2 linked regions of the Homo sapiens genome follow. The protein of the gene in region 2 purifies or fractionates together with the protein of the main gene of each other region. This does not show direct contact. Each region holds a gene or a part of one and is shown on either strand. Other genes may lie near its edges.

The links.
Region 1: the proteins of PTPN20 (region 2) and PRH1 purify together in Homo sapiens (affinity purification with mass spectrometry, with the first as the bait; one large-scale study listed by BioGRID). This does not show direct contact.

Annotation. Positions count from the first base shown.
Region 1 is NC_000012.12:10,881,369-10,885,922, reverse strand, and holds the start of PRH1 (salivary acidic proline-rich phosphoprotein 1/2 isoform a preproprotein), read left to right. Parts: upstream 1-1,667; 5' UTR 1,668-1,705; coding exon 1,706-1,769; intron 1,770-2,826; coding exon 2,827-2,862; intron 2,863-3,224; coding exon 3,225-3,688; 3' UTR 3,689-3,706; intron 3,707-4,554. UniProt on the Homo sapiens protein: PRP's act as highly potent inhibitors of crystal growth of calcium phosphates. They provide a protective and reparative environment for dental enamel which is important for the integrity of the teeth.
Region 2 is NC_000010.11:46,984,392-46,988,212, forward strand, and holds part of PTPN20 (tyrosine-protein phosphatase non-receptor type 20), read left to right. Parts: coding exon 1-173; intron 174-2,948; coding exon 2,949-3,164; intron 3,165-3,821. UniProt on the Homo sapiens protein: Tyrosine-protein phosphatase targeted to sites of actin polymerization in response of varied extracellular stimuli. Has tyrosine phosphatase activity towards various tyrosyl phosphorylated substrates.

The sequences.
Region 1 (4,554 bases), on a different chromosome or scaffold from region 2:
ATTATCTGCAACTTTTCAGAAGAGCCATACCAGACCCTCATATGCCCAGCACAGGATCCACTCATGCACACCTGTCTAGGGCCTTGTCTTTATGATTTTCTGTCACCTGGCTTCTCAGCCATGCCTCCAACCAAGCTATCCTCAAATAAAGACTAACCATGCACAAAAAGTGAAAAATTACACAAGACCTACTCAAGGTCTGAAATGGAAAGTGCAGCTGGTGATTCTGAGTAGTATATTTTATGAATTGATGAGCAGGGAATTTCTAGGTATCACAGAGCAATCAGCAGCTGAGGAGAGAGCGACAAAACCAGGACTCTGACAGGGCTTTTTGGAAACTTAATTTTTGGAGCAATCAGCAGCTGAGGAGAGAGCTACCAAACCAGGACCCTGACAGGGCTTTTTGGAAACTTAATTTTTTATTGTCAAATTATACAGACAAAAATGAAAGTAAAGGTAGTGAGGAGTACCACACACCTTTACTTAGAAGGATAAATAAAGGACACCTTTGTAGGGAGAAAAAAAAAGATATAGGACGAAAAGTAAACATGGCAAGGTAGACTCAGAATACAAAATTTCAACAAATAAGTGCGAGAAAAAGAATGAGAAAGAATGAGTATTGGAATATTACAGATAAAAATCCTTGGTGAGAAAGAACACTCTGATGAAACAGGTGACATAATTACTGAGTAAAAGCAGAAGACCAATCAAGGCAATTGAGGCTTGGACAGGTATTACAAATTATCTTAGATGAATGTATAATTGTGGCCATTTAATTATCAGTGATGACAATTACAATATTTATTAGAAGAAATAAAGTAGAGGATGAATTCTATGGAATATTCTGGAGAAAGTGGAGGTCTTAGCTATATGACATCGTGTGGCTCACTTAGGGAACCATATATTCAGTTTGTTCAGGTCTAGAAATTCCTTGGTGGTTTCTGAGTTCAGTTTTGCTTTAATAAACCCTAAAGATATTTTTAAAATACAAATATTTTAGCTTGCCTGTGTTGTATAGCACCAAGGCTTGCCTGAGTGTAGTGAGATTCACAGAAGTTTGGACAATTCTTGTAGCCTGAGCAGGCTGCCAGCACCTTTCTCTCATATATGTGTGCCTGGGAGTGTGCTGTCCTCACACATCTCACAGATAAGCAAGACCATCTCTGTTACATGAAAAATTTAGCTAAATGTGAAAATATCCACGCACACACATCATGAGAGATGGAAAGAGGCTATCAAAACAGTCAGAGATATTGACCATCTTCACTGTTAGCTGTAGGATCAGTGTCCACCCCCCGACACACCCACACAAACTCACATACACAGAAATGAAAAGCACAGTGAAAAGCAGAATAGCAGTCTTTCCAAACAGATTGAAAACCAAAAGATGTCTAAAGTTCAATCCTGACACTGTGCCGACTGCTTGGACACAGTTCCGTCAAAACATTTGTCCAAGTCATAGTTGTGCCTTTTAGGAATTAGACACAAACAATATCCTACCCAACCCTTCCTGCTGAGCTAGAGTCCCAAAAGAAATGAGGGATACACTTGACCTGAAGTAAGCAAAGCAGAAGCCAGTCTCTGAGGCGAGGAGGCCCACCTGGTAGGGAGCTCAAATGCACCATTGTCCTGCTTGTCTTTATAAAGGGAGCTGACACGTTTCTCCCAGCACAAAGTTGGGAGTGACACCAGAGCCTCCTGCAAGATGCTTCTGATTCTGCTGTCAGTGGCCCTGCTGGCCTTCAGCTCAGCTCAGGATTTAAATGAAGGTAAGATGAATTGGGGGAAGATATTGTGACTCTGATTGGGGTTTACAGGCAAATGCTATAGAGGAGGAAAGTGGAGGGAAGAGAGGAGGATGAGAAAACAGATGGGACTGCAGAGTTCTCATGCTGAGGATCAGAAGATCTATTGTACCTCCATTCCTCATCAAGGCCTCATAGTTTATTTGTTGCACAAATAGAATCCAATAAAGAATTCGTACTAGGGGTGTGAGAGAGTGAGATTTGCATTATATAGAGACATGGGACTGCTGTGAAGGATGTGGAGAATGCAAGACAGATTCAGGGAAGTACAGCTGTGAAGATCCTGTACTGATCCCAGTAGACAGGGATGATGGTGGCCTTGCTGTACAGTGGATGAGCATTAATGAAGGAGATAAACACATGTCAGAGCTACTGCCGAGGCAGAGAATTGGGTAAACACTTGTCTCTGTCTACATAGAGTTAGAGAATAACCAGAGTGAAACATTGTCATTTTTCTGTCTCCTGAATGTAGTATTTCAATGTGCTGGGAATGGCATGCGTAAGATTATATCCAAGTGGCTATGTCTGGTGGCTCCTGTTGAGAAGGCTTGCAAACATAAACAACATATTTACAGATGAAAGAGGGCAGAAGAATCCCCAAATATGTCATTGAAATACTCAGAGCAGTTTAACTAAATAAGCGCTAAGGGTTTACAGGCAAATGCTATAGAGGAGGAAAGTGGAGGGAAGAGAGGAGGATGAGAAAACAGATGGGACTGCAGAATTTTCATGCCGAGGATCAGAAGACCTATTGTATCTTCATTCCTCATCAAGGCTTGGGGAATCAAAAGAGGACAAACAGGGGCCCTTCTATGTTGAGTTCCTGGTTGACGCTCAGTGTAGTAACAATACTGCTTTCCCTTACATCTTCTTCCACTTCCAGTAGCATCAGAGAGTGGCTGATGAGATCACAAAGGGGATGCACAGGGTGTGATCAGAGGTCCTTTATCCTCGTAGAACACTATGAGCCTTGAATGATTCAGGAAGTAACTTTTCCCATCATCCTGTACTTCTTTTCTAGATGTCAGCCAGGAAGATGTTCCCCTCGTAATATCAGGTAAATCCCAATAAATTCTCAGTAAACTCTGTCTCCATTTTTCCCTGAAAAATTGATGAGTTCTCCAGTGTCTTCTTATCACCATTTTCTTGTCAGGAATTGGCTAATACCAATGCCCCAAAGATACAAACAGTTTTCTCCCAACCTTGATTCTGGGGACCATGAGTAAAGAAATTCAATTTTTCATCACCCTTATGTGGATTAAGAGGAGTTCTAATTAGGAAGCCTTGGGAAGGGGGGAGGTTGGGAGTTGAGAGGCAGGTCAGGCAGAGAGGGGCCGGCCGTGTGGTGAAGACAGAGAGGTATGAAGACAGGAGGGTTTTCCAGCATGAGCTCAGCTCTTCTTGTTTCAACTCACACAGATGGAGGAGACTCTGAGCAGTTCCTAGATGAGGAGCGTCAGGGACCACCTTTGGGAGGACAGCAATCTCAACCCTCTGCTGGTGATGGGAACCAGGATGATGGCCCTCAGCAGGGACCACCCCAACAAGGAGGCCAGCAGCAACAAGGTCCACCACCTCCTCAGGGAAAGCCACAAGGACCACCCCAACAAGGAGGCCAGCAGCAACAAGGTCCACCACCTCCTCAGGGAAAGCCACAAGGACCACCCCAACAGGGAGGCCATCCCCCTCCTCCTCAAGGAAGGCCACAAGGACCACCCCAACAGGGAGGCCATCCCCGTCCTCCTCGAGGAAGGCCACAAGGACCACCCCAACAGGGAGGCCATCAGCAAGGTCCTCCCCCACCTCCTCCTGGAAAGCCCCAGGGACCACCTCCCCAAGGGGGCCGCCCACAAGGACCTCCACAGGGGCAGTCTCCTCAGTAATCTAGGATTCAATGACAGGTACGATTCCAGTTTATTATCCATCAAAGGCTCCAACTGCTACAGTTCTCCAACTTCATTGTGCCAATGAATCCTCTGAAAACCTGTTAATATTGCCCTGTCCTGGAACACATTTCTAAAAATTGTTATTCAGATATTCTTGTATAGAGTATCAAGACCCTGTGACCCTGTGTTTTACAGAAGCTCTTGAAGGCAATTCTGATTTTGAGAATCACTATCTTCAAATTACATGTCTTAAGTAGGGTTGACAATGAGGACATAGAACCATGTTCCCCCTTTGGCTCTCTCTATTTTCTTTCCTCAAACTCAGACTCCCATTTAAAGTTTTCACCTGAACATGCTTTGCTCAGTCCTGCCTCACATCAGGCTTTCAGGTCCAGTATTCCTGCTAAGTGGTCCTTGAACTTTCAGTTGTAAAATGGTATCTCATTTTTAGTATACTTACATTTAAAGTCATACATGCTTAAGCTAACAAAAACTAATCTCACTGAACCGAAATGTACAGAGCTAAATAGTAAGAGCCTAACTCATCTTTCCTCCCTTCTATCCTTCTCAAAACCCCCACCTTTTACTCTTTGGAATCTACTTTTTGAAATATATATTGCTACATAAATATATATAATGCTTTTATTACAAGCACTTATACCATACTGTATATTCAGATTTGTGTCTTACTCACTGGAAAAATTTATTGTTTAGAAAACTTTCTCATGAGTTCATTTAGATCTCTTCAGTGTTTATTGGTTAGTTTGTTTTTACAATTGTATACTATTCTATTGTTTGGTTGTTCCGTAATCTATTTAACCAATCCCTGTCACTGGATATTAAGGCTGGATTCACATTCTCAC
Region 2 (3,821 bases):
ATGTTATTGCCATGATAACCAGAGAGATAGAAGGTGGAATTATCAAATGCTACCATTACTGGCCCATTTCTCTGAAGAAGCCATTGGAATTGAAACACTTCCGTGTATTCCTGGAGAACTACCAGATACTTCAATATTTCATCATTCGAATGTTTCAAGTTGTGGAGAAGTCCGTAAGTTTTTAAACATCAGTATTAGATATATGTTTCACCACATAAGCAGATGTCTTAGAACTAGAAGTTAGGAGTAGGATGGAAAATCGATCGATGATACTTCTTAAGTAACTTTTTACTTGTCCCTGGTACCAGAAGCCACCACCACTTCTACTTCTCCTCAACCAGATTCTGTGGAGAAGAAAAAATTGGAAAAGAGAGGTGGGGCAGGGAGAGTGACTGTTGAAGTTGTCTGATTCTGGGTTATACCTGCCTCTGCCAAATGTAGCAGATACGTATTGAGTCCTTAAAGTATGCTAATCACTGGGCCAGGCACTATCAGTACTTACCGAATAGTGGAGAGGTTGGTTACACTCACTGATAGATACCTAACTTACCGTGTTCAGTGATAATGTTGAGATATGTCTTGGGCACTTTGGGGCTCAGAAGGTAAACACTTGGCTTTACTTGGGGTTTTGAGACAGGTTTACTGGAGGAGGTGGCATTTGTTTTGAGAATTATGCAAATGAAAAAGATGGAGGGAGAAAGTAGATGATCAAAATATAAAATAGCATAAGGTGTGTGTAGAGACAAATATAAGTAGTTAAGTGTTTCTGAAATGTAAAAGTTCAGTGCCAGGGAGTAATAAAAGATGAGATGAGGTTCTCAAAAGTAAGCAGGGGCCAGCTAGAATGTGAAATGTCTTAAATTTCAGCTAAGTAGCATGAACTTTATTATGAAGATAATTGGGAGACATTGAAGAATTTTAGTAAGTGACATGATCAACTACGGCTGTTGGCATGGGGGTGGAAAGCACAGACGCAAGTGTTTTGCAGATAAAATTGGGAGACATATGTGACTTATGACTTATGATTTATAAGTGACAGAGGAGGGGTTGAAAATATATTCAATACAGTAACCACATGTGGATATTTAAGTTTAAATTTAAGTTATTTAAATTTATGTAAAATAACAAATTGAGTTCCTCACCTGCAAGTAGCCACATTTTAGGGCTTATGAGTGGCATGTTGATAGTGGCTACTATATTGCCACTATTTAAGACATTTGCTTCAGTATAGGAAGTTCTGTTGAGAAGCATTGGTCTAGAATAATTCATGGATTCCTTGGTCTAATAGACTTAGAAAACAGAAAAGGAATGGTTTATAGGAGAAAGCAATGAGTTAGATTGCTCTAGTGGATTCAGTTGGCAGGTAGGTGATACATGTGTTAACACGAGTGAAGGGAATAGGAGTTGAACAGGAAACTTGCAGAGAATGGTGAGTTTTGGAGTCATCACCAAAGAAGTTGATTGGAGCACAATCACCAGGAAAAGGGTTGCTGAGTGATGCTGAGGTTTGACCCATACATTTGTAGTAGCAACAAAATATGTGATTATGTGTATTTTTCTAGCAGTATAACATTGAGATCCCTGAATACAGGTTATGGGACTGATCCAGAGAGAGAGATTAATTTTAAGGAGTTGGTTCAAGTGATTGTGGAGGGTTGGCAAATCTGCAGGGTGGGAAAGTAGGCTGAAGACCCAGGGAAGAATTGGAGTTTGAGTCCAAAAGCAATCTGCTGGTAGAATTCCTTCTTGCTCATGGGAGGTCAGTTTTTGTTCTCTTAAGGCCTTCAGCTGATTAGATGAAGCCAACCCACTTTATGGAGAATAACCTGCTTTACTCAAATTCTACCAATTTAAATGTTAATCTCACCTAAAAAATACCTTCACAGAGGCACAAAATAATATTTGGCCTAGTATCTGGATACCAGGGCTCAGCCAAGTTGACACATAAAATTAACTATCACAAATTTCAGTCGACACTGTGGATTAGAATAGAGCTCTGAGCACTAGCATCTTTATTCAGAAAGCTTAGGAAAAAGAGGTGCATTCGGGAGAAGCATAGGAGAAGTGAGAAACTCATTTTGAGTTCTTCCATTAGGGTCCCATGTGTGATAAAATAAGGGCCCCACACTGAGGAAAGGGTCATGATCCCTTTGGATGAGATATAGGTAAATTCAAAGTGCTTTATCTGACAATGCTGGGAAGAGTTTCATGACTCCACTTCAAGGGGGCTCAGCACAATAGTGGGACCCACAATCTACTCTCATGGTCATTGACTACCCTGTCTTCATCGCTGGAAGAGATCGGTGCCTCTCTTGTCAGACACCTATATGTCTTAATTAAATTTCATATGTCATTTCTAAACTAAGATACTTTGCCTTTTGGTCTTATTCCTAACATGACAGTCCATCTCTCACTCTAAGCATTTTGAAATCTTGGTTTTCCTGTAGCCTCATGGTACAGAAGAATGATGGTAGATTAGAATTCAAGACACCTACATTACAGTTCCAGCTCTAAACGTGTGAACCTTCTGACCTAGCATACATCTCTCGTCCCCCTCATCCTTAAATTTTCATCTGTAAAATGGAGATAAAATGGTGCCTATCTCACATGGTTGATGTGAAGATTAAAGGAGAGAATTCATGTGAAGCCCCTAGCATAGTAACTGCCACATAGCAAGTGCTTAATTTTTGTTACCTGTTAATACTGGTATTTTTATTGTTGTTACTGTGCTCTCCTTTGTAAAATGGAGAAAACCTCTATTCCTAGCAACTTCCAGAATTCTTATAAACATCAAAAAGAGGTTTGAGTACTTTTTGAAAGTTCTATATAATACCAAGGTAATACCATATAGCCATTATTATTATCATTTGAATATTAGAAGTTGGCGTGAGGTCTCTAATATAAGAAATCAATAAATGTCTTTCTCGCTCTGTTTCTTTCTCTAACAGACGGGAACTAGTCACTCTGTAAAACAGTTGCAGTTCACCAAGTGGCCAGACCATGGCACTCCTGCCTCAGCAGATAGCTTCATAAAATATATTCGTTATGCAAGGAAGAGCCACCTTACAGGACCCATGGTTGTTCACTGCAGTGCCGGCATAGGCCGGACAGGGGTGTTCCTATGTGTGGATGTCGTGTTCTGTGCCATCGTAAAGAACTGTTCAGTAAGTGTGTGAATCAAGCAGATACACTGATGCTGTTGGTGTTTACACACTACATTTAATAGCCTGATCATTTGGAAGACTAATATTTGGTCTTCAAAAGCAACTTAGTAAATCAAAAGCACATGAGCTTTGGATACCTGATTCTCACCGAACTTGCTGCAGGTTCCTGGGGGTGTTTGTGAGGATTAAAGTATGTATTGTAAATAATGGCTTAGGACAGTGTCTGGAACATAATAGATACACAGAAAATGTGAGTTCCATTTCCTTTTCCTTCCCTGTATCTTACACGGGGTGTTTAGACTCTTACTAGAGAATGTTGATGGAATGTGCCTGTTTTTAATGAATATAAGTGACAAGCACATAAGAATGTGAGAAAAAATGTAGACTTCTGAGTTAATGAGGGGTCCCTGTTTGACTGCCTGTTTTGCCACATACTTTAGATTTTGGTGACTTTGGGTAAATTGCTCATCCTCTCTCAAATCTAGTTTTCTCATTTGCAAAATAAACATAATAATATAATTGAGTTTGAGTCAATAATTCACAATCCTTTACTTTTGTTTTTAATTTGGAACCAGCTAAGAGATAGACACAGGAATCAGATGTGATGATTACAATATTTCCTTTATGATTATTTTTATTCTCAAGTTTTATCTGTTA